Linked DNA regions of Homo sapiens: region 1 is linked to region 2. The links come from fine-mapping of genetic effects on gene expression. A gene starts in region 2. The other region holds a variant in brackets. All regions are shown on one strand. Distances are between the middles of the regions.

The links. PIP is the estimated chance that this variant, and not a neighbour inherited with it, causes the effect.
Region 1: its variant is fine-mapped to the expression of LRRC61 in follicular helper T cells (Schmiedel 2018, PIP 0.95).

Annotation. Positions count from the first base shown.
Region 1 is chr7:149,440,056-149,455,767 of GRCh38, forward strand. ZNF777 (zinc finger protein 777) reads right to left here. Exons shown (of 6, transcript NM_015694.3): 2 at 15,122-15,712; 3 at 14,056-14,182; 4 at 10,944-11,057. Among named protein-coding and RNA genes, the nearest start is that of ZNF777, 13 kb to the right of the region's middle. The variant CTATA/C (reference allele first, on the strand shown) is at 8,524.
Region 2 is chr7:150,314,100-150,329,811 of GRCh38, forward strand. It overlaps LRRC61 (leucine rich repeat containing 61), which reads left to right and starts at 9,256. Exons shown (of 3, transcript NM_001142928.2): 1 at 9,256-9,461; 2 at 11,742-11,911. It overlaps ACTR3C (actin related protein 3C), which reads right to left and starts at 9,446. Exons shown (of 8, transcript NM_001164458.2): 1 at 9,370-9,446. RefSeq lists enhancers at 8,476-8,585, 8,636-8,695, 10,016-10,085 and a silencer at 9,306-9,625.

The sequences.
Region 1 (15,712 bases), 870 kb before region 2:
GGAACTGTCACTCAATTCTGAACTTCTGAATTATATGCCACGAAGATCACATGGTCAACATGATCATCAAAAACTGTTTCTAATGACCTATTAGCTCACAACATGATTAGGTTCTTTCAATTTTGTTAAAGGTAAAATATTGCTAACAACCTAAGCTGCAAGAGAACTTGCCATCCAGGCCCCAGAGTGACACGCTGCAGGACATGTATCTTAAAATTCTGAATGTTTTCTGTTTGGTGACCTGGGGGCTTTATGCCTCTGAGAAATGCTTTATAGTAAGATGGAGATGGGCAGGAAGTGACTGTTTTGTTTTGTTTTTTAAGAGATGAGGCCTTGCTCTGTTGCGTAGGCTGGAGTACAGTGGTGAGATCATGGCTCACTGCAGCCTCAACCTCCTGGCTCAAACCACCTGCCACCTCAGCCTCTAGAGTAGCTGGGTCTACAGGCAAGTGCTACCATGCCCAGCTAATTTTTAAAGTTTTTGTAGAGACGAGGTCTCCCTATGTTGCCCAGGTTGGTCTCAAACACCTGGACTCAAGTGATCTTCCCATCTCGGCCTCCCACAGAGCTACGATTACAGGCATGAGCCACCATGCCCAGCAGCCTGTTGTTTTTTTGTTTTTTTTTTTTTTTTTTTAAATAATGGGAGATGTAGATGAGAAGCCACATTTCAGGGACCACATGCATTGTGTGCTTTTGGCTGATCAGTTGGACAAGAAGAGATGGACTAAGGACTGGAAATTGTGCCCTCAAAGCCACCTGTATTATGTCCCTCTTGGGGAGTACCCTTGTCCCCTCAAGAGCATGGGTACCTCAGCTTGAAGACGAGTGCCTTCAATACCTGGCCCTACTTCAAGACCCAACTCGGGTGTCCACCACTCCATCAAGCCTCTTCAGTGCTCTCAGCTGGACGTAGCTGTGCTCCTCCCTGAGCTCTAGGCATTCGCCTGCTCCTCTTTGTGGCACATACTCTACTCTTCCTCCCTCAAAACAGGCAGTATGTACACACTTTCACCTCCCCTCCACTTGCTAAACAGCAGGGAACGCCAGCGTTTCCCACCAAAAATGTCTCCCCACCCCGAACAACTTTTCAAAGAGTATTGACAACCAAGCTGCATTCATTTATAAGCAGGAATTTGTTCTCCCATTTAAAAAATTAATCGAAGACACATACATTGTGGGAATATAGTTTATGAAAAAGGTAACATTTCAATCCAGTGGGGAAGAGTTTAAAAGGAATGGAGACAACTGGCTTCCTGATTAGAAAGGGAAAAAAGCTACTTCACATATTTCACATCAAACTCCTGATGAACAAAAAAATTTATGTATAAATAAGAAATTCATACCTAAGTTTTACAACTTTAAGCTGAGGAACAGGCTATCTGTAACCCTATGGCACTTCAGATATTCCTTCTGGAGGATGTTCGGTTATTCGTGCCAAACATATTAAATGTGCCCAACTCTTATCAACTATAAATTTTGCTATAAATTGTTTTGAAAGGATTCTTGTAGCTTGCTGTTGCCATCATTTGGCTATAAGAAACTTATTTAATCTGTGATTGGTTTTTAATCTTTGTAATAATTCGTGTTCATAAGAACTCCTGTGGGGTGGGGGAAATCCTATAAGTTGTTTTCAAATGTATTAAACCTTTGTGAAGACTGAATTTATTAGTTACTGAAAGTGATATAATGCTATATTTTTAGACATTTAGTTAAAATAAGCATTTAATTACTTAGACTTAGCAATTTTCTTTTTGTTTTCTAGGGCAAAAAATATTTTATTTTGTGTTTCAAATATTTTTATAGGTTTTTTTTGAGATGCTCACAGACCTAAGATCTGTGATCATAGTGTTTACTAAATAAAATAGCTTGAGTAAATATTTCTACACTTGATACGAAACCCAGATTGGGAGGCTGAGGCGGGTAACGTCAGGACAAACTCCTGACGTCAGGAGTTCGAGACCAGCCTGGCCATCGTGGTGAAACTTCGTCTCTACTAAAAAATACAAAAATTAGCTGGGCCTGGTGGCAGGGGCCTGTGATCCCAGCTACTCGGGAGGCTAAGGCAGGAGAATCGCTTGAACCCGGGAGGCGGAGGTTGCAGTGAGCCGAGATTGCGCCACTGCACTCCAGCTTGGGCGACAGAGTGAGACTCTGTCTCAAAAAAAAAAAAAAAAAAAGTGATAAATTTGAATACATAAAAGTTAAAAACTGCTATTACACACACACACACACACACACACACACAGACACACACACAAAATATAAAAGTAAACCACAGGCCAGGCGTGGTGGCTCACGCCTGTAATCCTAGCACTTTGGGAGGCCAAGGTAGGTGGATCACCAGAGGTCAGGAGTTTGAAACCAGCCTGGCCAAAATGGTGAAACTCCGTCTCTACTAAAAATACAAAAAAATTAGCCATGCATGGTGGTGGGCACCTGTAACCCCAGCTACTCAGGAGGCTGAGGCAGGAGAATAGCCTGAACCCAGGAGGTGGAGGTTGCAGTGAGCTGAGATAGCGCCACTGCACTCCAGCCTGGGCAACAGAGTGAGACTCTGTCTAAAAAAAAAAAAAAAGTAAACCACAAACTAGGAAAAGTATTCACATACATACTGTTAGACAAGAGCTAATATCCTTAATATTTTAAAAGCTTTTTACAAATCAATAATAAAAAGACGAGTAATCCAAAAGAATAACAACAAAGATTATTCACAGAGTAGTAAGACATACTAGTAATCAATAAAGGTATGAAAATATGCTCAACATCACCCTTATGGAAAGTCAAATAAAAACATCCAAATATTGTGTTTTTTCTACTTATTACTTTGGCAAATGATAAAAAGATAAATAATACCTATTACTGGTAAGAGTGTGTAGAAACAAACATTCTCATGCTTAGAAGGGTGAAGGCATGTAAATTGGCACAAGTGATTTGAAGGGATTTGCCAGGATCTATTAAATTTTTAAGTGGGTGTATCCTTTGACCCAGAAAATCCATTTCTAAATAAATTCCAGACAAGTGCATGAAGATCTATTTATAATAATCTTTACTGAGGCGCTGAAACTTGTGAACACCCTAAATGCACATCAATGGCAGAGTATTTAAATAAATTATGAAATCAATACACAGAATACTACTGTCAGCTATGAAAAAGAACACGACAAATTTATATATTCTGACGTAAAAATGTCAATGATATAGTATTGAAAAAAGAAACTTGCCAATACTTCTATATTGTCTGATTTTTTTACAATGATAATGTGTATATGTATTACTTATATAATTAAGGCCATGTGTATGTAATCACATGCACATAAAATTGGAATGAATAAACTGCTGACTCTTGAGAGAAAACTATGGGGGACTTTCACTCTCTCTGTACTTTTTCTTTGTGAAATTAAAAACCAGTATTGCCACATTAACTCTCTCTACCAGCTCAAAGTAAATAAATATTGGTTGACACTGACTTTCCAATCTTCGCATGGCTATACTGTTAGGTTTTTTTAATTAAAAAAAATTTTTTTTAAAGTTATACATGCACATAGGCTAGTGGAACATAGTTGAACAGTTCTTCAAAACTTCTTTTTTTTGAGACGGGGCTGCATCTTCCACCCCTTGGATTCAAGTGATTCTCCTGCCTTAGCCTCCTGAGTAGCCGGGATTACAGGCATGGGCCACCACACCCAGCTATATATACATATTTTGTGTACTTTTAGTAGAGATGGGGTTTTACCATGTTGCCCAGGCTAATCTCAAACTCCTGACCTCAAGTGATCCACCTGCCTCGGCCTCCCAAACTGTTGGGATTAGAGGCGCGAGCCACCACACCCGGCCCAAAACTTATTTTTTAAAAAGTTCTTTTCCACTCCTCTGCCCCCATTTCCTGCTCCCCGAAGCAATCACTTCAATGATTCCAGCTGACTCTTTGGTCATTTACCTCCATAACTCTAAGTAACACACTTATATTGCTACTCCTTGAGTTTTCAATTTTAAGCATCATCCATTGACTTCCAAGGGATGACGGTCAGAACCATCTCCTCCGAACTGATCCTGCCAATACAGTTTTGTTGTAATTTTAGTTGGATCAATACTGGGTGTTTACCTCGCTAGATTATATCAATGTTATTTATAACTAAACTCTGTAGTATTCAGTGAGTGCCTCCTACGCCTGTAAACCTTCTTGCTTTCCCTAGATCTGACACTTATTTCTTTTGCCCAGCTTACGACTAATTATCATGAACTTAGCCCCAAACTCCCCCAACCTTACCTTGCTGTGTAACTCTCCTTTCCAAACATTCAAATATATTGGGTATTTATCCATTTCATCTACTTGAAGACAAATTTCTGGGACCTGCGGAGGTGCCCCACTCGACTGGCTGCCTCTAGGTGCACAGCTGACCTCTCGGAATGCCCCTGGGCCGTGTGCCTGGAGTGCCTCCACCTCTCTCTCAAGTTGGGGTTTGTAATGCCTCCTTCTTGGTTTACTTCCTCATTTTGGCAAAGCGCCTGCCCCAGTTTGATAAAGGATTTGTGGAGACTTGAATATCTCAAAATGACTCAGTTTCACTCATATTTAATCGAAATAGTCTGGCTAGACATTGAATTATAAGTTGGAAAATATTTTCCTTTGGAATTTGAAAGGCACTACTCTACTGTCTTCTAGCTCCCAATGTGGTTACAAATGTCTGAGGCCATTCTAATTCTCATTTCTTCGCATGACTCTGTTTCTCTTCCCTGGAAGCTCGTAGGATTTCCTTTGTTCTCAGTTGCTCTGAAATTCCGTGCTGAAAGTGTAGGTCTATTTTCTTCCAGTGCTCTGGGCAGCTGGCTCTTTCAATCTAGAAAATTACGGCTTTAATTGGCGGGACCTTTTCTTGAATTATTTTGTTGATAATTCCCACCTGTTTCTGCTACTCTTTTTCTGGATATTCCTATTATCTGGATGTTGGACTTCCATCCTTCAGTTTTCTTATTCTTTCCCTATTCCCTTCCATCCTTTATTTTTATTTTTTTCCCTATTTTCTTTTCTTTTAGCTTTATTTTCTGGGATGTGTGCTTATCCTCCAACACTGCTCCTGAGTCTCTAATTTGTACTATTACATTTTTTATTTCCAAGAGTTCCTTTCTATTCCTTTTTTAAAAAACAAGCATTACACTTTTGTGTCATGAATGCATTCACTTATTTGATTTAAGGATTTTACATGTGAGTATTCATATATACATTTTTCCCTCTCTGCATGGTCTCTGTTCCTCTAAATGTATTTTTTCTGATTTCTTTACTTGTCTCTGTACACCACAGAGTTTTCCCAAATGTCTTCTCATTCTTGGTTGTCCCCGGAGACTTAAAAGGGGACACTCAAGAGAACAGGGAGCTCAGTGCATTTGGGTGAGGCCTGCTAACTATGGGACTCTGTTTGGCCCATAGGGTGCTTTGGCCAAGTCATTTTACCCAGAAACCTCTTGGGCTGGTCCCAAAAGTCTCCAGATAAGCCTCTTCAAATATCCTGCCCAGTGGGTTTAATTCTGGGTGTTGGCAACATTTCGGGAGTCGAGTTAGGGAAGAAGGCTGGAGGTCTCAACATCTGCACGTCAAGTCTCCTTCTTCCCGTTTTCAATATGGTGCCCCACCCTCAACTGTGCCTGGTGCCCATGTCCAGAGAGCCTCCTTTGCACCCTCCCCAGAGAATAAGCCTGTCACATATCAGGGCTAGGGAAAGGCAGATGCCTGCAGTAGGGACTGAGGGAGGCAATGGGAGCTGAGGGGAGCTTTAAGCGGTCTCTTTAAAAGATGTTCAGCCAGCTGTCTGTGTTTAGCCTCACTTCATTCCTATTTCCAGGGATCCCTAGAGTCTCTGGTACTATTAACTCTTGAGCCCCAAGCAGGTGTGGGGGTGCAAATTGGGTTTCTTCTCAGTTTTCCCCAGTACCAATTTCAGATTCAGCTCACCACATCTATCCACCTGCTTCAGGGCTGAAAAACTTCGTTGCTGTTTCTCCTTTCTTTTTAAAAGTTTCTTCACTCTTGTTTTAGAAGGATTTGGGAGGCCGGATGTGGTGGCCTGTAATCCAAGCACTTTGGGAGTCCGAGGCGGGCAGATTACCTGAGGTTGGGAGTTCAAGACCAGCCTGACCAACATGGATAAACCCCATCTCTACTAAAATACAAAATTAGCCAGGTGTGGTGGCACATGCCTGAAATCCCAGCTACTGGGGAGGCCGAGGCGGGAAAATCACTTGTATCCTGGAGGCGGAGGTTGCAGTGAGCCAAGATCGCGCCATTGCACTCCGGCCTGGCAACAAGAGCGAAACTCCATCTCAAAAAAAAAAGGAAGGATTTGGGAAGGTGGGAATAAATACATGTTCAATCTGCCCTGCTCAACTCAATCTTTCATTGTGTACTGTTTTAAAAAATATATTTTTACTGAATAAGGAGTAATACATGCTCACATCAGAACATTTTAAAAAACATAGAGAAATATGGCTTTGGTATGTTTCCATCCAGTTTTTTTTTAATCTACTTTTGCTTACATCACTGACCTCACTATAGTTACATTTCCCACTTCTACATCCTTAATCCTCCTATCAACTGGATCATTCCCATCAACATTTCAAACAAGCTTTAGCAATCCCCATCTTAGGCAAACAAGAATCCCCCCAACTGTCCCATATTTCCACTCCCCCACAGCTACACTTCTTGAAATGACTGTCAGCACCTGCCATCTCTACTTCCTCGCCTCCCACCTGCTCCTCACCCACTGACTATCAGGCTGCCACCTCCACTAAGGTACCAACGTTTGTCTTCCTAAGGTCACTGATGACTTTTAGCTTGCAATCCAATGGACCCTTTTTAGTCTTCCTGTTCCTAAACCACACAGCAGAATACGACACGGTTGGGCATACTCTCTCCTTCTGGAAGCATCCTTCTCTAGAAATACCCAACAAGGCAGTATCCTAATTCTCCTGCTACCTTTCTGGCCACTCTTTCTGTTTCCCGTGATTCCTCTGGCTCCTTCTTTTTCCACAACAGTGGTTTTCCACCCTGGCTGCAGATGAAAATCACCTTGGAAGCTAAAAAATACTAACATCCGGGCCCCATCATGAACAACATATTCCAAATCCCCGAATCTGCCCCAAAAGCCAGGGTTCTGCAGGGCATGGCTTGTGTTCTCCTCTCTTCCCCCTCTACAGACTGAGCAACCTAATCTAACTCTGCTGCCGACACCCAAATGTCCAAATGTGCCAAGGCCAGATGTCTCTAGCTCAGACCTCGGTTCTGAACTCCAGACTCCTTTATTCAGCTGCTTTCTCAACACCTGCTCTTTGATGTCTCACAGGGATCTCAAACCTAATGTGTTCAAAACGGAATTCTCAGTGTTTCTCCAAATCTGAACCTTACATTACCCTCCCTCTACTCTTACTTAAGCCAGAGGCCTGGGGGCCACCCTTAGCACCTCCCCAGCCCTCCTATTCAACACCCACCAATCCCTAAGGCCTTCCTAGTCCACTGCCAGAATATATCTTGACAACAGCCACTTCTCTCTCAGGGCGATGCCAAGGTTTCCTACCTGGAAGACGGAAAGAACCTGCAAGTAGTCTCCTAGCTTCCAGACCATCCCCCCTGCAGTGAGTTCTCTACGGAGCAACCAGAGCCCTACTTAGTCTTCAGGTTTCCACTAGAAATTCCACATCCTCCAAGAGGCCTTTCTGACTTCCCAAACTCAAGGGCACCTTCCCTGTCGTGTGTCTCGCAGCCCTGGATGCTCTGCGTCTCAGCTTTGTCACAGCTGGTGCCCGTGCTTTCATCTGTGGGGGGTGTTTTGGTTGTTAATGTCAGTCGCTCCACAGGAGTTAAGTCTGAGGGCAAGGGCCTCAGGGTTAATATAGTTCTTGACACAGTACCTGCTACCAAAGAGATCTGATGAACTAAATAAACATATGAGTGAAACTTATGGTTTCAAAACTCTTCATAAATGTGATTTTAGTGTGTAACAGTCTATCATACTGTGATTTATATTTGTACATCTTAATCTATATTTTGGATTCTTTTTCCTGCTAGACTCTCAGGAAGTAAATTATTAGGTCAAATGTAAGAACATTTAAAATATTTAAAATATACTTAAAAATAAGCCAGGTGCAGTGGTTCATGCCTTTAATCCCAACACTTTGGGAGGCTGAGGCAGGTGGATCACTTAAGATTAGGAGTTCATGAGCAGCCTGACCAACATGGTGAAACGTCATCTCTACTAAAGAAAAGTAAAAAAATTAGCTGGGCGTGGTGGCACACACCTGTAATCCCAGCTACTCAGGAGGCTGAGGCAAGAGAATTGCTTGAACCAGGAGGTGGGAGGTTGCAGTGAGCAGAGATCACGCCACTGCACTCCAGCCTGGGCAACAAAGTGAGGCTCCATCTCAAAAACAAAACAAAACTATATATATATATATATATATATATAACTATATATAGTTATACATATAGTTATATATATAGTTATACATATAGTTATATAGTTATACATATAA[CTATA/C]TATATATATATATATATATATATATATAGTAAAGAATACATATATATTTTAAGACTAGAAAGCATCAAATTGCTTTCTCGAGAGACTGAAATGATGAACCCTCTGAGTGGCAATGTCTGAGCACACAGATTTCAGCCATGCCTTCTGGTTCGCTTTACTCTTTGCCAACTTGCTAGGTGAAGATGGTGCCTGGCTTCTCTGGCCTCCATGGCCACCCTTTCAAGGCCGTGAATGAATGGGAGCCCCTGTTCTGAGTATTTGGAGGGTTGACATCTGAATCATCTTTACATCTCTTTGCCCTTGGGAAGCCAACCATTAAATGATAGTTTATTGAATGAATTTACTTAGCCAATTCATAAAATTGTCATGTTTGGTATATTTGGAATTATGAGAAGTCTCAATTTTCTGGACTTTTACCCCTTTGTCTCATACTTTTGGTCTGGCCCATGGCTGGATTTGCTGCCATTCTGCAAAAGGAGAAGGCGCTTGGATGGACAGGTTACCACTGGAGTGCTACGGCTCTGATACCTGCAGTTTTGCAGAACCAGCCTGCAATGGCGAGGCCGGGGCCTTTGGTTTAGCACAGAGGTGCGAGTGTGCGGCCCACTCTGAGGGGCAGCGGTACCTATGTCCTCCCCTTTCCTCCCACTGCAGACTCCCAGGGCCTGGAGATGGTGACTGGAACAAATGACACATTTCAGCCACACAAGGAGGCCTCTGTGAGGCCGCTTCTTCCAGCAGAAGCTCCTGTGGATGTGCATGTGTCAGAACAAACCCAGCCCAGGACCGAATGGATTTGGGTTATTTGCTTTTCAATTCTGGCCCCATTCTGTGGGAGGCCATCTGTGATGAGGCAGGGAAAAGCAGACAGAGAAAGGGGATCCATGCTCTTGCATCCAGCCCTTCCAAGAAAATTCTATGAGAGCAGCACCTGAACCGCAAGGCCCCGTTGGGACAGCAGATTGTATTTTAGGATTTTAACCACAAATCATCTCTCCTGACTTCTCATTCTCTGCCTCGCAACACTTCTTTCTCATTTCTTCCACCTAGAATCTCTCTATTTCTACTTGACCTTTGCTTTTGGATGTGGCCACTCAAACCTTTAAGGTTCAGACTGATTTTCCTCAACCAAAAGTTCACCCTGCCATGTGCCACACTGTCACCAATCCCTCATCCTCATCAATTTTTAAATTCCTCTTTTCTGTCTGCAGGAAGGAACTCAGGATTAGCCCCTCTCCTCGAGTTAAATTTTAGGCAAATCCATAGAAAGTGACACCACTGGATTTCTCTGGGACATGCCAGCACTTGTATTTTTACAGGGTTCTGTCTCTCCCAGAAGTCACCTTCCCACTCAGTACATGGGGCCAACATTACTCCCATGTTCCTAGAACATCTGCTTGGAGCCAGTTGATAGGTCCCCAAATCAACGACATTAGTTCCTAACAAGACCTGGCTGTTGGCCCCAAACAGAGTTCTCCAGGTGGATCATCCTCTTTCAGCAGACATGATCGCCAGTAACTCTCAGCTATGTTCACACGCCACACCTGCCCACGAAGGACAAGGATCAGCTTCTGCTGATGACCATCAAGATAAGTGATGCAAGTCCAAAGGCAGTTCCAAAGCAGGGGCTTCAGAGAGCAACCATGCACCACAAGAGCGCCTGCAGTGTGAGTGTGTGAGCCACTGACCCAGCTGCTGTGAATGGGGCGACCTCCAGGCACACCAACAGCGGCTGGTGTATACTGAGCCACTGCTATGTGCCAATCACTGTGCCAGGCCCTACGGTTAGATATTAGTGCCAGTTCTATTTTATAGATGAGGAAACTGAGACTCTGAAAAGATCAAGCAACTGAAATCCCACCCCCAGTAAGCAGAAAAACTATACTCAGATACAGTCAGCCTCACACCAGAGTGTGCACATGAGCCACACGGCCTCTGGTCAGTCTCGCTGGGTGCATATCTGCTGACTCCACCTACATGCTGTCCTGCTGAAGCTGTGCATGTAGGATGTTTCTGGTAAACTCCATGCCTGCCCCTTATCCCTCCACTGACCACCTGCAGGACTCAGGGATGTGGCCCTTTTCTCGGAAGTTCCAGGAATTTTAAGCACTAATGACTGCTTGACAAGGGACTGCCTTTCTTTGAGTTTCTTGCTTTATTTCCTACAGAGAGTGAGGTGACACTTGGTCATGTCAAAAAATTCCTGAGACAGTGAACCCAACGGCATTCCCATTAATCAACAAGTTGGGCCACTGGTGATCATGGCACTCCAAAGCAGGTCCTGGCACCTGCGGGCCTCCTTCCTGCTAACATATCCTGGCAGGGCCTACCTTGGATTGTGCTGCCTCATGCTGGCGCTTCCTGAGTACTGAAAGATCTAGAATGCAGAGCTGCAGATCACCCTTAGCCACTCACCAGCACTGGGATCTGTCGGCGTTTCGCCCTCCTCAGAGTCTTCCTGCTCCTGCATGGTGGGCCGCTCCCCGCGCTCCATCTGTGACATGAGGTCTGGTTTGGAAATTGCATAGTCTAGGCAGAAGAAAGGGAAAAAAATATGCTCTGGGATGAGGTTGCACTGGATGTTGTTAAGGTATCATCTGTGGGCACGTGATTCCAGGAGCAGCTCCTCGACTGGAGACCACAATGGAAAACCGCCAAGTCTCCCCTTCTTTTCCCAAGAGCCCACTGTGGGTGTGGGGGTGTGGGTGTGTGTGTGTGGCGGGGGGTAGAGGGATCGTGTTGCTCAGAGGTAGTCAAAACCTGCCCAGGTTTTCATGATAAAGGCAGAAGATATTTGAAATTTTGTAAGGTAAAAAACTAATCCTGGCCGGGTGCAGTGGCTCACACCTGTAATCCCAGCACATTGGGAGGCTGAGGCAGACGCATCACCTGAGGTCAGGAGTTCGGGACCAGCCTGGTCAACATGGTGAAACCCCATCTCTACTAAAAATGCAAAAAATTAGCCAGGCGTGGTGGCGGATGCCTGTAATCCCAGCTACTCGGGAGGCTGAGGCAGGAGAATCACTTGAACCTGGGAGGCAGAGGTTGCAGTGAGCCAAGATCACACACTGCACTCCAGCCTGGGCAACAAGAGTGAAACTCCGTCTCAAAAAAAGAAAAAAACAAAAAACTAATCCTGATAAAAATCTAAAAGCCATAAAATATCGATAGATTTTCTTACATAAAATAAGTCTGCAGTTCTTTGGAAATAAAGTTAAAAGATGAAGAAACTTGGAGGAAATATTATACATATATATACATGTTTGACATATGGCAAAGGGTTAATATCCATAGTTATACATAAAGAACTTCTATAACTAGTAAAATTGCAAAGCTATAAATAGGTAATTCATAGAAGAAATATGAATGGCCAATAAATATATAAAAAGATGCACAAGTTCACTGGGCACAGTGGCTCACGCCTGTAATCCCAGCACTTTGGGAGGCCGAGGCGGGCGGATCACAAGGTCAGGAGATCGAGACCATCCTGGCTAACATGGTGAAACCCCGTCTCTACTAAAAATACAAAAAATTAGCTGGGCACGGTGGTGGGCACCTGTAGTCCCAGCTACTCGGGAGGCTGAGGCAGGAGAATAGTGTGAACCCGGGAGGCGGAGCGTGCAGTGAGCCGAGATCGCGCCACTGCACTCTAGCCTGGGCAACAGAGCGAGACTCCGTCTCAAAAACAAACAAACAAACAAACAAACAAAAAAAGATGCACAAGTTCACTAATCATCAAAGAATACATATTTAAATAAATGAAGTAGGCTGGGCGTGTGGCTCACGCCTGTAATCCCAGCACTTTGGGAGGCCGAGGTGGCTGGATCACAAGGTCAGGAAATCAAGACCATCCTGGCTGACACGGTAAAACCCTGTCTCTACTAAAAATACAAAAAAAAATTAGCCAGGAGCAGTGGAAGGTGCCTGTAGTCCCAGCTACTCGGGAGGCTGAGGTAGGAGAATGGCATGAACCTGGGAGGCGGAGCTTGCAGTGAGCCCAGATCGTGCCACTGCACTCCAGCCTGGGCAACAGAGCGAGACTCTGTCTCAAAAAAAAAAAAAAAAAGTAAATAAATAAATAAATAAGGTATCATTTTTCACCTATAAAAAAGGCTAATATTTAAAATAGAAGAACATCAGCTCAGGCCAGGGTATGAAGTGGCATTTTCACACACCCTTGCAGAAATATCAACTGGCTCAGCCTTCTGGAGGGCACCAGGCAGTAGCCATAAAACTATAAATGTGCATCCTGTTTACTTGGCAATCCCACTTCTTAGTATCTGTCCTACTGTAACACACAGAAGTGCACAAATACACAGAAATGTTTATCATAACACTTTGTAACAGTCAACCTACTCTTCAGCAACAGCAGACAGGTCAAAAGCCCTAATGGTTCACGTGGAACACTGCACTGTCTTTCCAAGGAGTCCTACGTGTGCTGACATGGAACACTCTCTATCCCCCTACATTAGGTAAAATAAGTAAACGGGCCCCTCTGTGCAAACCCCAAACTGCATGTGCCTCAGTGCATGTATCATGCTTATATCTGCACATGCAAAAAAAGATGAGAGAGAACACAGGCCAAAGTGTTCATGGTGGTTACCTCTGGGGAGTGGTACTGGTGAATGGGTGGTGGTTGCTCTTAATTATATAAATCATTTAAATTGTTGAATTTTCACAATTAAAAAACACAATTAAAAAAAGAAAAAAGAATTTTAAAAGGAAGGGAATGTATCCTATGGAAAGGTATGTATAAAATTATCAATTCTAGCTGGAATCAAAGTTTCTATGTGACAACACATTTAAATGTTTAAGATAACGTTTTTTTGTATATACCCAAAAAGTTCTCCATATCAGAGAAACAGATATATATACACACACACATATATATATGTAAGTAAAGTATATTTTTCCAGGTTTTCATCGTTAAATATTCTTAATTAAAATCACAAGAATCTACAGACTTCGGGGTAAGGCAGATCTCCATGAAATAAGCATTTAACCTCCCTGATCACAGCCTCAGTGTTCAGGCACCTGAATCATCGAACAGGAGTGTGAACACCTGTCTTAGCCTCCGCAACATCTTGGCTGTGCAGGTCCAAGGAGATGATACTTGTACAGCACCTCAAATGTGGCTGGTACACAGGAGACACTCAGCACACTTTCCTTTCATTCTTTTTTCCTTCCTTAATAATAGTTTGCTGGACAAACTAATTTATTTAAAAAGGGGTCCCCATGGGGAAAAATATGATGACGGAGAGACCACTGATGTCTAGGTCTTTCTCCTCCTCCTTGCCCCAGCAGCTTCTCTGAGAGTGGGGTCTCAATTTACAAGCCATTCTGGCCTGGGCCGCACTGATGTGTGTGGGTATATGAGGGCGTTTGCTTTAATTTGTTGTGATCTCTACAACTCTGTTCTCCTTGCTTGCAACTATTGGCTCTGCTGGGGTTCAGAACTCCCTAAGTTTATGAATGCACTTTGAGCTGGCGTCCAGGCAGCCCCCAGCGAGCGAAGGCTTCTCCTTACCCATGGAAACCAGGGACTCGTAGTTGCCCCTCATCACGTTCTTGTAGAGCTCCTTCTGCCACTCAGACAGGTTTCCCCACTCCTGCTCCGAGAAGTGCACAGCAACATCATCAAATGTGACAGGGACCTGAAACCACACAATAACTCGGCTCAGACCCGCTGGAAGGCAGTGACAGGCCCACGGCTGGCCAATCCCAAGGCCCAAACTCCTGGCTCTGGGCCTTCACCTAGGACTTTTCTAGAAGTCTGGCCACTGTCCTGGCCCCAAAGAGTGAGGGGCCTGTCTTGTCGGATCCTTTTCCTCCCCTTCAGGATATAATTCTTGCAGCTCTAAAGCATGGTCTGTGGACCAGCAGCAATGGTGCTACCAGGTAACTTGCTCAGACCCCACCTTAGACCTACTAAATAGCTTCTGCATTCAGTAAGATCCCGGGGAGATCCATGTGCACAGTAACATTTGAGACATACCGGGCTAGAGAACAGAGTCTGTTTTCTCCCTACATATGGCTGTGAAAGGGGGCAGCAGCACTGAAGAAGAGAAAGCAAGCCAGTCCACACTCAAGCTCTTTCAGAACCTTCTGGAAAATAATATGGAAACCTAACTTCTCTAGCTTTTGAAAGGAAACATCTTGAAATCAGTTTTCCTGGCACTAACATGGCTTATAAGTGAACTCATAAAAATGTGGAGTGGGACAGATCCTTGTGATGTTTAACCCAAGCTCCTTCCTCTGCTGCAATTGTGAAGCTAATGCACCCTCAGTGACTGATGGTAAAGCCTCTCCACGGCTCTCATCGGCCTTCGCTTTGCCTTCGTAGTCTCTCACACCATGGACAGCTCTGCTGAACACCCTTCCAAACTGACAATCCCCGATCCCAGGGGCATTTCTGTACTAGCCTATACTCTCATCAACAGGAGAAATAATTTGATTTTGGCATGTCCTAGCAACTGGGATCACTGTATTTTTTCCTTTATCAACCACCCCTTTCTTTCATATTACACTACATTCCTAAACCACACTCCAATTCAGATCACTTCCTTGGGAAGCCCCAGTTGGGATGTGCTTACCTTGGGAACTTCTCCATTGCTGCCGGGGGGCAGCCGCAGGATCCAGAAATTTCTGTTTTTCAGCAGGTTCTCCATGTTCTCCAGCCGCCTCTGCAGCAGCCCATACTCCTGCAGCAGGGTCCCCAACACGACCCACTTGCTCTCCAGATGGTTCGCGAACTCCACGGCTGTCTTCTCGCAGTCGGCTATCTTCTTTTCATTTGTCCCCGTCCTGCCTTCCAGGGTCAGTAGCCTCATGGCCTGGGCCTCCAGCTTCCTCTCCACTGCTTGGACGGCAGCCCACACAGCCAAGCGGGTGATCTCTGCCGTGGGGAGCGGCTGTTCCTTCTGGACTGCAGAAGAGATCTGGAAAGGGGTGTCCTTTTGGGAAACCGGGCTCTGGAGCAGCGGGTCCATGTCAGTCTCGGGAACTGTTGGGGAAAGGGTCAGGGGGTCTTTCTCAGGAGCTTCAGGGGAGTGAACGGGGGCTTCCTGGTGGTGGGGGGAGTGGGAGAGAAGGGAGACTTCTTGTTCAGCAGCAGCTGGGGGTGGATACTGGGTCCCTTCCTGGGAAGCCAGGGGGCCCTGGAGAGAAGTCTCTTGCTCAGAAGC
Region 2 (15,712 bases):
GTGGTAGGGGTGATGGCAGCTTGCTCATGTGGCACTGGGGCTGTATACGTGTCTCCTAGGGTCAGTGGCAGCAGTGTTAGCTCCGTCACTGTGGCAGGAGCCGAAGGGATCTGGGATCAGTGACTTTATGTGACCAGTTTTGTAGAACAGTTGTCAGCCTTGTTCCTGGATTTAACCTAGAAGCTCTTCCTTTAGCCCTGCCAAGGATTCTTGAACTATTTAATACACCTTAGAAAATGCATTTTTCCTTAAACTATTAATAGGTAGAGTTAGGTCTATTGTTTGCACCAAAGAACACTGGCTTATAGAAGAGAGTGATCCGCCTCTACCTCAGGGTACTGATTGGCTCAGAAGAAGGAAATAGGGAAAGAAAATAGGGTGGGGGCGATGGAGCTTTGTGTATGTCACTATTTATTTCTCTGAAAAAGACAGGGAGATGTGTGAAGCAAATGTGGCAAACATATAGTTACTCTTTGAGGTGTTTTTTGTGGGTATCTGAAGCAATATTTTTGTGCTTTTCTAGATGTTTAAAATATTTTATTATTTAAAAATAATGTTTAAGGCTGAGCTTGGTGGCTCATGCCTGTAATCCCAGTACTTGGGAAGGCTGAGGTGGGTGGATCCCTTGAGCCCAAGACCAGCCTGAGCAACATGGCAAAATCCCATCTCTCCAAAAAAAAAAAAAAAACAACAACAACAAAAATTAGTCAGGCACAGTGGCACACACCTGTAGTCCCAGCTACTCACAAGGCGGAGGCGAGCGGCTCACTTGAACCCCGGAGGTCGAGGCTGCAGTAAACTGTGATCACACCACTGCACTCCAGCCAGGATGACAAAGCAAGACCCAGTTTCAACATAATAATAAATAATAAATAGTATTATTTTTAATAATATTATTAAATATTATTAAATAATAAAATAATATTTATAAATAATATTAATAATTACTTTTATTATTTTATTATTAAATAAGAAAATATTTATTATTTATTATATTTTATTTATATTATTTATTTTATATATTATGTATAATAAATAATATTTATTATTATTTTAAAAATACATACAAGTGATGAAGTAGGCAAAGATTTCTCTAAAAGGACACAAAAAGCAATGACTATAAAAGACTGACAAACTGAACTACATTAAAATCGAAATTCATTAAAATTGAACGTCATCGTGATAAACTTCTGTCCTGCTAAAACATGATTAAGGTGGAAACAGCAAGCTACAGCTGGGGAGGATCTTCACAATCCATATACCTGGAAGAGGATATGCAGCCGAAGATGCTAGCAACGCCTACAAATCAATCAGGAAAAGACAACCCAATATTGAACAGCACTTCCAAAGTGGATATGCACATAGCCAAAAAATACAGAAAACATGCTCAGGATGGAAGAAGTAAAAAATTATAAGGAAAATACATTGTACGTTTTATATACTAATTCGTTGTTAGCATTCAACATATTTTATTACAGTTTTTGAATAGGAAGGACATTCCTATGAAATAAAATTCAAAAGGTAAAACTGAGCTCACAGTGAAAACACCCTCTTTGCCCCCTCAACAACACAGTTCCCCTCCCTGGGTCATTGTTACAAGTTCTTGTATGTCTTTTCCAGAGAGACTCTAGCATGTAGAAGTAAACATACACATGCTTATGTATATTCATACATGTGTGTATTCTCCCCTTTTTAATAAAAACACAGACACAAACACTCCCAACACTATACTTTTTTTTTTTTCACTTAACGATGTATCCTGAAAAGTCAGTCCATATCAGTACACAGTTTCCTTATATTTAAAAACGAATGCATAGGCCGGCCGCGGTGGCTCACGCCTGTAATCCCAGCACTTCGGGAGGCCGAGGCGGGTGGATCACCTGAGGTCAGGAGTTCGAGACCAGCCTGACCAACATGGAGAAACCCCGTCTCTACTAAAAATACGAAATTAGCTGGGCATCGTGGCACATGCCTGTAATCCCAGCTATTCAGGAGGCTAAGGCAGGATAATTGCCTGAACCCGGGAGGTGGAGGTTGCAGTGAGCCGAGATCACGCCATTGCACTCCAGCCTGGGCAACAAGAGTGAAACTCTGTCTCAAAAAACAAACAAACAACAAAAATGAATGCCTAATATTCCATCATGTGGATGTACCATACTTTCTTTAAGCAATACATTGGGCCTGTTTAAACTTTTTATTCCATTTCATTAATCTGGCTGTCAATACATTGCACACATACATAGTGTTTCGACTGTAGTAGCTTTAAATATATGTTGATATGTGTCAGGGCTTGTTCCTACCAACCCCCAGCCACTACTATTCTTTATCTGAATTTTTCTAGCTATTCTTGTTTATTTTTCCATCTGAACTTTAGAATCTGGTTATTTTTTTTTTTTTTTTTTTTTTTGAGGCGGAGTCTCACTGTTGCCAGGCGGGAGTGCAGTGGCGCGATCTCAGCTCACTGCAACCTCTGCCTCCCAGGTTCAAGCGATTCTCCTGCCTCAGCCTCCTGAGCAGCTGGGACTACAGATGCGTGCCATCACGCTCAGCTAATTTTTGTATTTTTAGTAGAGACGGGGTTTCACCATGTTGGCCAGGATGGTCTCTATCTCTTGACCTCGTGATCTGCCCACTTCGGCCTTCCGAAGTGCTGGGATTACAGGCATGAGCCACCACGCCTGGCCAAGAATCTGGTTCTTAAAAGTTCCTCTTGGAATTTTTCCTGGGATTACGTTAAACTGGTAGCCTATTTTAGGGAGAACCGATATCTTTTAGATATTTAGTCCTCCTGCCCCTGAACATGATAAGCTTTTCCATTTATTTAGGTCTTCTTTTTGTTGTCTTTAGTGATGCTTAAAAGTTTTGGTTTTTTTTCACATAGATTTTGTACATTTTCTGCTAAGCATTTTCCTTGATGTTTAATCTTTTTTATTGTTAGTAAACAGCTGGAGTCCTTCCTTCCTTCTTTCCTTCATTTATTTATTTATTGAGTTTCCTTCTGTTGTGCAATGGCGTGATCTCGGCTCACTGCAACCTCTGCCTTCTGGGCTCAAGTGATTCTCATGTCTCAGCCTCCCAAGTAGCTGGGATTACAGGCGTGCAGCATGCCCGGCTAATTTTTTGTATTTTTAGTAGAGACAGGGTTTCTCCATGTTGGCCAGGCTGGTCTCGAACTTATGGACTCAAGTGACCTGCCTGCCTTGGTGGCCTCCCAAAGTGCTGGGATTACAGGTGTAGGCCACTGCGCCCAGCCTTCCTTTGTATTTTCTAACTGGTGGTTGTTTGCATAGATGGCGGCTTTTGATTCCCATTTATTAATATTAAACCCACACACCTTACTGAATTATTTTATTAGCTGTAGTAAATTTTGTCAGTTAATTATTTTGTGTTTCTCACTTATGCAATCAAGTCACTTGAAATGATGATAATTTTACCTATTTTCCAGTTAATAAGCCTCTAATTTCTCTCTCTTAACTAGTGGTGTTGACTAAACCACCAGAACAACGTTAAATGATGATGGTAATAGTATATGTGATTATCTTATTCTTGAATTCAACAGGAATACATTTCATGTTTTCCATTTAAGCATTATACTATCTTTGAGGTTGAGGTGGATATATCTGATCATGCTAAGAAAATAGGCATCTATTTCTATTTCACTACAATCTAGTTATTATCCAGATGGATATTGAATTTTGTTGAATCCATTCCAGTAGCTGAGGAAATGGATTATGACTTTTCTCTTTAAATCTATGACCACCAAGAACACATCTGCAGTTGAATGGGGTTGGGTTTATCGGCTCCTTGCAAGGAGGAGGAAAGTAAACCAAAAGGAACTATGGGATGTCTCACAAGAGGGTGTTAAAAAGGACTCTTTATAGGACAGGGCTTGTTTTAGTAGATTTGGGGGAGGTTGCAAGAAAATGGGGATTTCCTCTCAATGGGATGATGTCGGGAAGTAGGGGCAATTCTATAATTGTGTATATTTTAGATAATTCTTATGGAGAAGACGAGAAGAATAGAGTGAGGCTAAAGCTATGACGGTGAAAAGCATTAGTCATTTGTATCAGCCAGGATGGGGAGGTTTCCTGCGGTTTGGATAATGTTCTTGTTTTGTCTGTGCTCAGAGATCATTATGGAGTGGTCTGATCTCTGCCAAAAGACACGAGGGATTTCTGGGAGCACCACAAGCTAAGACAAAGACATGGAACAGAGTCTTTCCTAGAGCTTTCAGAGAGAGTACAACACCTTGATTTCAGACTTCTACCCTCCAGAACCGTGAGACAATACATTTCTGTTGTTTTAGGCTACCCTGTTTGTGGTATTTTCTTACTGCAGTCCTGGAAAACTAATAAAGATGCCAACTTTAAAGTATACAGAGTTGCCAGTTGCGGTGGCTCACGCCTGTAATCCCAGCACTTTGGGAGGCCAAGGTGGGCGGATCACGAGATCAGGAGTTCAAGACCAGCCTGGCCAATATGGTGAAATCCCATCTGTACTAAAAATACAAAAATTAGCCAGGCGTGGTGGTGCAGAGCTGTAGTTCCAGTTACTCGGGAGGCTGAGGCAGAAGAATCGCTTGAACCCGAAGAGCCGAGATCGCACCACTGCGCTCCAGCCTGGGTGACAGAGTGAGACTCCATCTCAACAACAATGGCAACAACAACAACAAAACAAAGAACATACAGAGTTTTTCAAGATTCTTCTGGGGGCCCGTGAGCCCAAAAATTTGCTTTAGATCAGTGTTTCTCAAAAGCTTACATAAACCATGTGATTCTCATGCATTTCACTCCCTTAGGGGTTTATTTTAAAAGTCATTTTCTGGGCTTCTTCCAGACCCACATAATGGGTGTGGGCCCTGTATTCTGCATTTTCAAACAAGTTTCCCAGGTTCTTCTACATCCCAAAACACTGCTGAAGTAGGAAGATACCTGGGCTGTAGACAAAAATTTGGATTTAATCTTTACCCAGTCTATTACTGAGCAAGTCTTGTCAATTTAGGCAATTTAAGAGTTAAAGTGTACACTCTACTGGGAAAATCCCCGGTTCCAAGTCGAGTGACTCTGAAATTTATTCACTGCACAGCATTTGTAAAATTGCTTCTTCTTTTTTTTTTTTTTTTGAGACAGAGTCTCACTCTGTTACCTAGGCAGGATGGAGTCCAATGGCGTGAGCTTGGCTCACCACAAGCTCCGCCTCTCAGGTTCAAGCGATTCTCCTGCCTTGGCCTCCCGAATAGCTGGGATTACAGGCATGCACCACCATGCCTAGCTAATTTTGTATTTTTAGTAGAAACGGGGTTTCTCCATGTTTCTCAGGCTGGTCTTGAACTCCTGACCTCAGGTGATTTGCCTGCCTCGGCCTCCCAAAGTGCTGGGATTATAGGCATGAGCCACCTCGCCTGGCCCAGAACAAACTTCTTAAGGGTCTGTCTAGCTCTGACATTCCACAAGGCTATGAAATGGTCCAGGAAGAGTTAGGGCAGGATGGCAAATTCAGGTGCCTTTGACTTTGGGAAGATGGAGGCAAAGCACTTTGTCCATCCAATTACTTTGTATTTATTTATTTATTGTTTGTTTGCCCAGACTCCAGTCTTGACAATTACTCTGCATTTTAAAACACTGTTGGGGCTAACCCTACCAACCTCTCCCCTGACCCGAGACAGAGTTAGCAGCTAATGTAGCTACTTCCCACTTTCTGTCACCCCTGCAAACAGGGCAAACAGGGATGCTGTATCTGGAAGCTCTAGGGGCAGGAGCCAGTCCTATTTATCCTTTGTAAAACACCTAGCAAAACGAGATGATTTTAGGTCAACCCTCCTGAAACTTGGCTTGGCTGCAGTGACAAGTTTTGTACCTACAGGAAGATCAGCATTTCCTTCCGTTCTTCCTCTGCCAATCCATCCCTGACTGGTCTTTTGCCCTCTTTTGAGTAAGAAACTCCTTGTTTTAGAGTGTTTCTGGATTAACGCTGGAAAGGGACCAACTCTGAGCCCATAGTGTGGATCCCATGTAACAGTACTCTTACCAGAAAAGGGGTTTCACCCCAGACCCCAAGGGCAGGTTCTTGGATCTTGCACAGGAAAGAATTTAGGGTGAGTCGCAAAGTACAGTAAAGTTTAAATGGTTTATTAGAAACTAATCTATTAGAGTAGGGTATCCTCAGGAAGCAAGAGGAAGAACGCCCTACCTCAAATGTAATGCTTGTTTGTGTAGGATATTAGAGCTAAGAATAGTGTATTTTATTACAAAGGCTTGTGATCGGCTTGTGACAGACTATCTGTATTGTTATTCTCTTGTGCAATTAATTTCAGAAAGAATTTATGAGTGGACTATTATCTTTAGAGCAAAATATAGTTTAAATTAAGAATGCCTTTTTCCAGGCCAGGCGCCATGGCTCAAGCCTGTAATCCCAGCACTTCGGGAGGCTGAGGTGGGTGGATCACTTGAAGTCAGGAGTTTGAGACCAGGCTGGCCAATATGGCAAAACCCCGTCTCTACTAAAAATATAAAAATTAGCCAGGTAAAGTGGCGCACATCTGTAATTCCAGCTACTTCGAAGGCTGAAGCAGGAGAATCACTTGAACCCGGGAGGCAGAGGTTGCAGTGAGCCGAGATGGTGGCATTGCACTCCAGCCTGGGCAACAGAGTGAGACTCCATCTCCAAAACAAAAACAAAAACAAGAATGCCTTTTTCCATTAACTTGTTTCCTCAACAATAAACATCTTGTGATCAAGAGTGCTGACTTCCTGGGAATGCAACCCAGCAGGTCTTGCCTTCCCCAGCCTTTATTTAGGATAGTGTCACTCTAGTTAGGACACCTCTGACAATACAACTCAAATCATTGGTAGCTCATGAAAAGAACTCACTCTTTGACTAAACTTGAGTCAGGCTCCTCTCAGTCCTCGTTTTGACTAGGCCCTGACCCTGGGCTGGTCCTTAACTCACTTAGTTCAGTTTTAGCAAGAATCCTGCTGAGTCAGTTCAGCAAAAATCCCCTACCCTTGGTATCTGATCACCTCGGCTTGTGTTCAGCAAAAATCTCCCTAACCTTTATGTGTCCTCTTAGTAATTTTCCATCTGCTGACTTCCACCCTGTTGCTTAACTATAAATCTCCACCTGTCCTTGTATTTGATGTTAAGCCTGATTTTTTTGCCCCTATTGCATAATCCCTATTGCAGCTGTTCTTGAATAAAGTCTCTCACCTTAACAATTGTTTGAATAATTTTTCTTTTAGTGCCATTTCCTACTGTAACATGCTGTGTGAGTCTCAATTTTCTGATCCATATAATGGAGAAACTAATACTTCCATCTCCGAGGCATGGAGATCAACTGAAATTAAAAATAACTTGCATATGGCTGGGCAGGGTGGCACACACCTGCAATCCCAGCACTTTGGGAGGCCAAGGCGGGCAGATCACTTGAAGTCAGGAGTTTGAGACCACCCTGGCCAATATGGCGAAACCCCGTCTCTACTAAAAATACAAAAATTAGCCAGGTGTGGTGGTTCACGCCTGTAGTCTTAGCTACTTGGGAGACTGAGGCAGGAGAATCGCTTGAACTCAGGAGGTGGAGGTTGCAGTGAGCTGAGATCACACCACTGCACTCCAGCCTGGGCAAGAGAGTGAGACTCCATCTCAAAAAAATAAAAATAAAAATAAAAAACTTGGATAAAGTGTAAAGATAAAAATCACTATTCTTGGGCAGGGGTCCCAGCTGTAGCCCAAGCTGGAGAACTAGACTGGCTTGGCATTAATTTGCTTGGGGCAGGAGAAGGGTCATCTGAAAGATATGGGAAAAGCTGAGGTTGCCCCTGGGAAGACTAGGGAAGCCTGCCCCCGGGCCAGCCCCTTGAATATGTCCAACTGAGGAGGTGGAAAGAAGTTCAAGGTAGCCAGGGAGACAAAAGTTGTTCACTTTGGTGCACATGTGGAACCAACATGGGACAAACAGGCATTTTGTGCTCGTCCAGGGAACATGACTTCTTCGGCTCCCACACAATTTGTAGCTGCAGGAGTGGCAGAGCACCAGAGTGGATGCAGGCCCAGATGTTCTCTGGGTTAGGTGTTAAGGACTTGTGGGAGTCATCAGGCAGCAGGCATTTGCCCCAGTGTCAGAGGTGTTTAAGCCAGAATTACTCCATCTTGAATAAGGGCTGGGTAAAATGAGGCTGCATTCATAGGAGGTTAGGCATTCTAAGTCACAGGATGAGACAGAAGGTTGGCACAAGATACAGGTCATACAGACCTTGCTGATAAAACAGGTTGCAGTAAAGAAGCTGGCTAAACGCCACCAAAACCAATATGGCAATGGGAGGGACCTCTGGTGGTCCTCACTGCTCATTATGCACTAATTATAATGCATTAGCATGCTAAAAGACACTCCCACCAGCAAGCACCATGACAGTTTACAGACGCCATGACACCATCATGAAATACTCTATATGGTCTAAAAAGGGGAGGAAGCCTCAGTTCCGGGAACTGCCCACCCCTTTCTCTGAAACTCATGAATAATTCAACCCTTGTTTAGCATATAATCAAGAAATAACCAAAAAATGGGTAACCAGTAGCCCTGGAGCTGCTCTGCCTATGGAGTAGCCATCCTTTTACTTCTTTGCTTTCTTAATAAACTTGTTTTCACTTTACTCTATGGGCTTGCCCTGAATTCTTTCTTGCATGAGATCCAAGAACCCTCTCTTAGGGCCTGGATCGGGACCCCTTTCTGATAACACCAGGAGACACCCTGGGTGGATTTCCTGAACCGACCGATAGATGAGCCTTCCACGCGGGAGACCTGGATCCTTATCGTCTTTGTGGCCCCTTCCATCTGCACGTGCGGACGAGGTCCGGGTCGCACTCGGGCGGTCAGCCTGGCACGCACAGCGCCGGCGTGCAGGGGGCCTTGGGTGCCACCGAGTCCGGGAGGAAATCTAGGCCGCCATCCGTCCGGAGACTGGCACCTGTGACCACCACCCAACATGTATTGAACAAGGGCTTGGAGGTCCTTTCTCTAAGGCCGCACCGATAAACGATTACCGACTGTTGACCTCACGGCCCCTTCGCTTCCGGCCGCACCGCCTCGCTGCCCACGCCTGCGCACTCAGGCACCGCAGGTAGGAGGAACGTACCAACTGCGAGGCGGGGGGTGCGCGCGAAGACCCCCGCAGGCTGCGCTTCCGGAAGTAACCCCTGGCGCATCCCGGAATCCAGAGCGCCCACTACGGCCTTTGGCCAGGCCCCCTGGGCGCGTTCCGGGAGCTCAGGCCTGCGGCGCTGGGAGAAGCACGCTGGCCAACAAGTTGGGTGGTGGGCACGCGGCCCAGGGGTCAGGGGCCGCCAGGCGGCGGGCGGCGGGGCTGCGGCTCTTACCTGCCGAGGAGGCGCCGGCTCTGCGGTGCGGAGTTGCGCCGGACTTCCCAGCTTGGCCAGTGGCTCCGCAGGCTGCCGGCTCCACCCCTCAGGTAAGCGGGGACTGGGCCGCCGAGGTTCAGGGAAGGGGGCGGCTGTCGGGGCCCGTGCCGGCCCCGGGGGGCCACCTGCTGGGCCAGCGGTGCCCTCGCGCCGAAACACACTGGGAGAGGCCAGAATCTTCCGGAACAGCCAGCCCTTACCCATCTCTCCCTCTGTGCCGAGAACTGCCCTGAAATACTGTGGTATTAATTAACTCGTTTAACACTAACAATCTCATGAGGCGGGTGCTGTTACTATTCCCGTAATGTAGACGAGGAAACCGAGGCGTGTGCTGGAGCAGGATCACGGCCGTGCTCAGAGACGGGCTCTGGATGCCATGCTCTGACTCCATTGTTAGCCCTAAGCTTCCAGAAAGTAGCAGAGTGCTGCCGTGTCGTTTGTAACAGATCTCACTTTGTGTCATTTTTTTTGCACAGTATGAAACCTAATGATGCATGATTATTATTTAAAACATCTTGCTTAGACTTTATAAGTAGTCAAATTTGCGTGTGGGACAAAACCCCAAAACATGCAATGGCTTGCTCTCCTCTTTTCCTTTCACACGTTCATCTCCTCCTATCCCTTTCTCTCACCACCTTTCAATCTTCTCACAGATGTTGTGGAGGAAGATGAGACTTGAGGGCCCAGCAGGTGCTTAAAATCCCCTGCCTGGTGGGGGTGGAGTAGACACTCTGTCCCCCTGCAGTGCTGGAGTTGAGAGCAGAGGGGCTGGAGAGGGACTGGGCGGAGTGAGAAAGGCCTGGCATAATCATGGAATGCCCAGGGTGGGGTTCTACTTCTCTTGCAGGCACAAGAGAAGTAGAAGAGTGGCCGCTTTCCTTCTGGGCACGCACTTGGGAAAAGGCTTGGTGAGAGCAGCGAGAAGAATAGGTCTAATTTCTTGAGCCAGTGTGCGGAGGTGCTTCCCAGCCCAGGCTAAGCCAGATCACTCAGCCAGCCGCTGGCTGCCTTTACAGATGTACGGCTCCCCGTGAGCAATCAACATGCCTGGCTCTCAGGCATAAGCTGCCTCACTTCCCTTCTGCACAGCACTCCAGGACTTGCCTGCTACCAGACCCATCCTACTTTCTCTGTCAGGAAAAATGAGAGTTCTTCCTGGTCTCTTGAGGCCAATCCCTTCCACCGCCTGTGCCCTGGATCCCTTTCTCCAGGAAGCTTCTCTTCCCTGTGTAGTTAGCCTCCCCGCTCTTCCCAGGTCACCTTCTCTCTGTTTAGGGACAGAGCCAAGCCTTTTCCCTCCCATCCCCACCTCCAGCATTCCCGGTTCCTGCTTCTCCCCCACTTCCTGCTGTACCGCCCACTGAAGGGACCTTTGACCCCGCTGACCACTGCTTTTGGAAAGTCTTTTCTTGGTTTCCCTAACTTCACTTTACTTTGGTTTTTCCTTGTCTCTCCCCTCTGCCTCTCAGTCACCTTTGAGATCTGCTCATCCTCTCACCTCCCTGTATTGTCAGCATTACCTGGGCAGCCCCCTCTGGTGTTTTCCTTCAGTTTCTCTAGAAACTTGCCTGAAGATTTGCCCCAAAATAGCCCACATGGACCTGTATGAGGAAAGAGGCTCACTGTGGAGGCGCTCTCCATCATTCCTCCTCTTCCACTTGAGGCTTAGGCATGGGCCACCTCCTGAACAGCTCTCCCCACAGTCTCCTCCATGCATTGTGCCATCACCCCGCCCTGCCGTCACCCCGGCCTGGCCCGCTTTCCCTTTTGCCTCCCAGGGATGTGCCTGCTTCCCATGTGGCCTGGCTAGGGCGCTTTCCTGACTGCTGCCCACATGATCGACTATGGGCAGGCGTGCAGCCCAAAAGGCCGTGCTTCAGCTTAGAAGCCCTTGGAATCTTGTCTTGTTGTGGTTGTAGGCCTCCAATGTGTTGTCAGCTGTGGTGATGTGTGTCACAAGTAACTTCTTTTTTTTGAGACAGGGTCTGGCTCTGTTGCTCAGGCTGGAATGCAGTGGTGCAATCACGGCTCACTGCAATCTCCACTTCCCTGCTCAAGCCATCTTCCTGCCTCAGACTGCCAAGAAGCTGGGACCACAGGCACAGGCCATCACAGCTGGCTGATTTTTTTGTATTTTTTTTGTAAAGACAAGGTTTCGCCATCTTGCCCAAGCTGGTCTCAACCCCCTGAGTTCAAAGCAGTCCACCCACCTTGGCTTCCCAAAGTGCTAGGATTACAGGCGTGAGCCACCACACCTGGCCACAAGTAACTTCTTAGTTATAAAGTACTGAAATTTATCAATGACTTTCTTTTTAAAATTTACGTTTTAGATTCATTTGGATTCAAGGTTGGCTCTCAACAGTGCCAGCTGCACTGTCATCCTAAAGTACTTCTGTGGAAGAGAACATGGTGGTGTCACTGTTGTACCAGTGATGACACAAAATCCCAGATCTACCTGACGGGCCTGCGAGGGTTGAAGATTGTGAAGCAATAGCCTAAGGTAAACAACACCTTGCAAGACGGGTCTAAGCTCTTCAGTGTAATAGACCCTGTTTCTCAGTAGGTCAGCCCGGGGGCCCCCCAGGGATCCCTCCCCGCCTCATAGCACCATACCCCACTTTCCCCCTGGTCTAATGATGAGCCCATTTCTAGGTTGTCGTCTCATCCTGAGCCCCAAGTGCCAGCCAGGCAGCTACTCTCCTCTGTTCATATCTTGAAGGCAGAGTGCTGGCTCATAGTAGACATTTGATGAATTTCTGTTAAATGATTGAGTGAATCAAGAGTATCTGCAGAGTATAGCATTTATGATGAGACAAAGCTAATTGGGAAACAGAACAAGATTGGTGTCCTGGGGTAACTGGGTAGGTCTTAAGATGAAGATTTTGGGGTGTGCTGGGTGCAGTGGCTCACACCTGTAATCCCAATACTTTGGGAGGCTGAGGCAGGGGGATTGCTTGATCCCAGGAGTTCAAGACCAGCTTGGGCAACATGGTGAAATCCCGTCTCTACAGAAAACACAAAAATTAGCTGGGTGTGGTGGTGCACATCTGAAGTCCCAGCTACTTGGGAGGCTGAGTTTGGGAGGATTACTTGAGCCCAGGAGGCAGAGGTTGCAACAAGGTAGATCATGCCACTGTACTCCAGCCTGGGTGACAGAGCAAGACCCAGTCTGAAAAAAAAAAAAAAAAAATACTTTGGAGGGTGACCCCGTTCTGCAGATGGCCTCTGGAGGCCTGGATGTTCACACTCTGGGGTTGCAGTTTCCTCAATCATGAAGTGAGAGTTAAGTCCCCTCCAGTGTGACATCCAAGAGCAGTTGTGGGCCCAGGACAGCAGCCTGTGTTTCCTTTGCAGCTTTACCTAGCCCCTACACAAGCGCCACCTTGCAGTAGGCCTTCAGTTCTTGGATTTATTGGTGGCTGAAAGTTCTTGCGAGATGGACTTGAAGTTGTTGCCACTTAACCCTTCTGAGGTTCTTCTGGCTGGGAGGAGCTCCTCTTTCTGGCCAGAGTCTTGCTTGAGCCTTCTTAGCCATCTCGTCACCTGTTATAGGCAGCCCTGCCATCTCTGGTGACCCTTTTTAAACATTACCCTGGTGAGTAATGTTTAGCATCACTCATTGTCAGATCTTTTTTATCTTTTTTTTTTTTTGAGTTTCAGTACCAGTAAGTCTTTATGTATTCATTATATCTTTCCAGGGAAAGGAGAAGGGAAGTGAAAAGGGTCAGCATGTGTGTTGCAAAGTGATTAGAAAATGGGAAAGGAAGTACCTGGTACAGAAAAATCAGCCATCCAATAGATGCACCCCAGAGATGGAGTAACCAAAGCCCAAGGGGCCCTGGTCTCCTGCAGTTCAGGACTGAGGGGCAGGGATCAGGGAAGGTACAAGCCTTTCTACCCTCCCTCCCTGCCCCTAAATTCAAGATTTCACATAAAGCTTTGGTTTCTAGCAGTAAACATGGGGTTACATTCATCTGTCTCCTTTTAAACAATCTTGTAGCCACTTTGACATAAGTTCTTGCACCGGGCCGGGCGTGGTGACTCACACCTGTAATCCCAGCACTTTAGGAGGTCAAGGAAGGAAGATTGCTTGAGCCCAGGAGTTGGAGTCCAGCCTGGGCAACATAGTGAGACCTTGTCTCTACAAAAAAATTAAAAGAATTAGTCAGGTGTGTTGGTGTACACCTGTAGTTCCAGCTACTTGGGAGCTGAGGTGGGAGGATCGCTTAAGCCTGGGAGGTTGAGGCTGCAGTGAGCCAAGATTGTACCACTCCACTACAGTCTGGGCGACAGAGCAAGACCTTGTCTCAAAAAAAAAAAAAAAAAGTTTCTTGCACTTGCGTAAAAGTTCCTAAGTGACTTAGATATATACTCATATTCCTTTGCCTGGTCTCCTGACCCCACTTCTACGTGGAAGGCCCCCGGTTGCTTCTCCCTTCTTTGAGATTACAGATTAAGTAGGTTTGATCCATCCCAATAAAGCAGTGTCTTAAGTGTTTGGGGTGAACCACATTGACTCAGGTTTGGAACAAGAGATGGAGGGTTCCTGACTTCTTCAGGCTGTTCTCATACATCATTTAAGAGTTGCAGAGACAGCCTGAGAATTCAATATATGCGTGTGTGGGTATGTAGGTTTTCTTTTGGGGTAGGTGAATGGAGAAGAAGGTACGGTAGAAGTCAAGTTTTTAGGGCAGAAGATCTGGTCCAAAATAGGAAATAGAGGAAGGGGAACACAAAGAAAGGATAGTTCAAAATCCCTACTTCAATATGGGGGTCCCCCAAACTCATGTTTTACATCCTTTTTGCCTGGTTCAGAACTTTCTGTAAAGATGCTTTGGCCATTTTTCTCTCAATACAAAAAAGTTTGTAAACAATAAAACCCCAAAAAAACATGGAGAAAGACCAACACAGTATAGTTACACAAACTAGGCCACCTAGCAGTCACCAACTGCTACAAAGTCCAGACAGATACAGGAACTAGAGGGGGCAGCGTCAGGGGGAAACAAACCCAGGATCAGATGTGCACCCCTGAACACGTTCTATCGTGCTTGTCCCATTCTAGCCCAGCAAGGGAGGTTTGTGGTGATCCTATAGCGTGTAAATGAAGCCCCCTTTTCTCCTTAGTTACCGTGATGCTGAATCAGCGCTGCAGCAGGGCAGGACGCTGGCTGTGCACACCACATGAAGAGGCCCTCTCTTACGGGGCTCCCTTGAACCCAAGAATTTGGAAACGTTAAGAATTTTAGTTCTTGCTTCATATATCCTTCCCTGGACAGCACAGGATGGGTACAGGGGCACTGGTCTTAAAATTTAGCGTTCCCAAGTCACGTCTTTTACGAATACACACGCATACCCTCTGTTGTGGATGGTAGGCCTAGCACAGTCCAGTGAAGGACGGACCTGGTGTGTGAAGCAAGTCCCATGCCCTAGGATTAGGAAACCCTCACCTAACCGTGGTGTCCCTTGGTGTCTCTGCACCTTAGTCTAATTTTCAATCTTCCACTAGCCAGAGATCAAGTCTTGATGCTATCCAGTTGAAACCTAGTCTCCCGTGAAACATTTTCAAGGTCGGGGGGTTTCAGGAGGACACTGTGGCAGAAAAGCCAAGTCTCTGGCAAACATGAGGTAGTTCAATAGGCTGGGTCCTCCATATAGTTGCTCTTCGTGGTTAGAAAAACAACCAGAAGTATTCCTGCTATGCAGGCCTGGAGCTTCTGCCGACTTATCCCTGAGGTTGCTCAGTACCTGAGAAGAGTAAAGAGTGAGGGACCGAGATTAAAGTAGACAACAGCACAAACAACATTAAGGGGAATAAAAGCTAAGATGCACGGACGTATCGGTGACACAGCTAGTGCTGTGGGCACCCGGGAGACGGGGGACCGAGGTACGGTATCCAAGGGAGCGAATCAGTCCCATCGCACTGGCCTGGAGCTGGGTGGGGTGAGTGTGGGAGCCGCAGGTCTGCAGCGGTCCCCCAGCCACACTCTCTGCCTGTCTCCGCCACCCATTGCTTGGGACACTTCCCAGCACCCTGTCCCAAGAGTGGGCTGTGAGGAAACAAGATGTGAGTAAAGCCTGGCCTGCCCATGAGGAATTTCCTCCCTCAGAAGGTAGTGGCTGTGGGTTGGGTCCGTCATCTGGCCTCATGCTTAATCATTTCACTCCAGCATGGGAAATATTATGATTACCTGTCCTTCTTAAAAAGGAAAACAACTTCCCTGTCCAGGCCACTTTTGAAAGCTGGAGATTCTAGGGGTAGTGCCTCAGACAAAGCATGTAGGCTCCTGAGTGATTTCCCCCA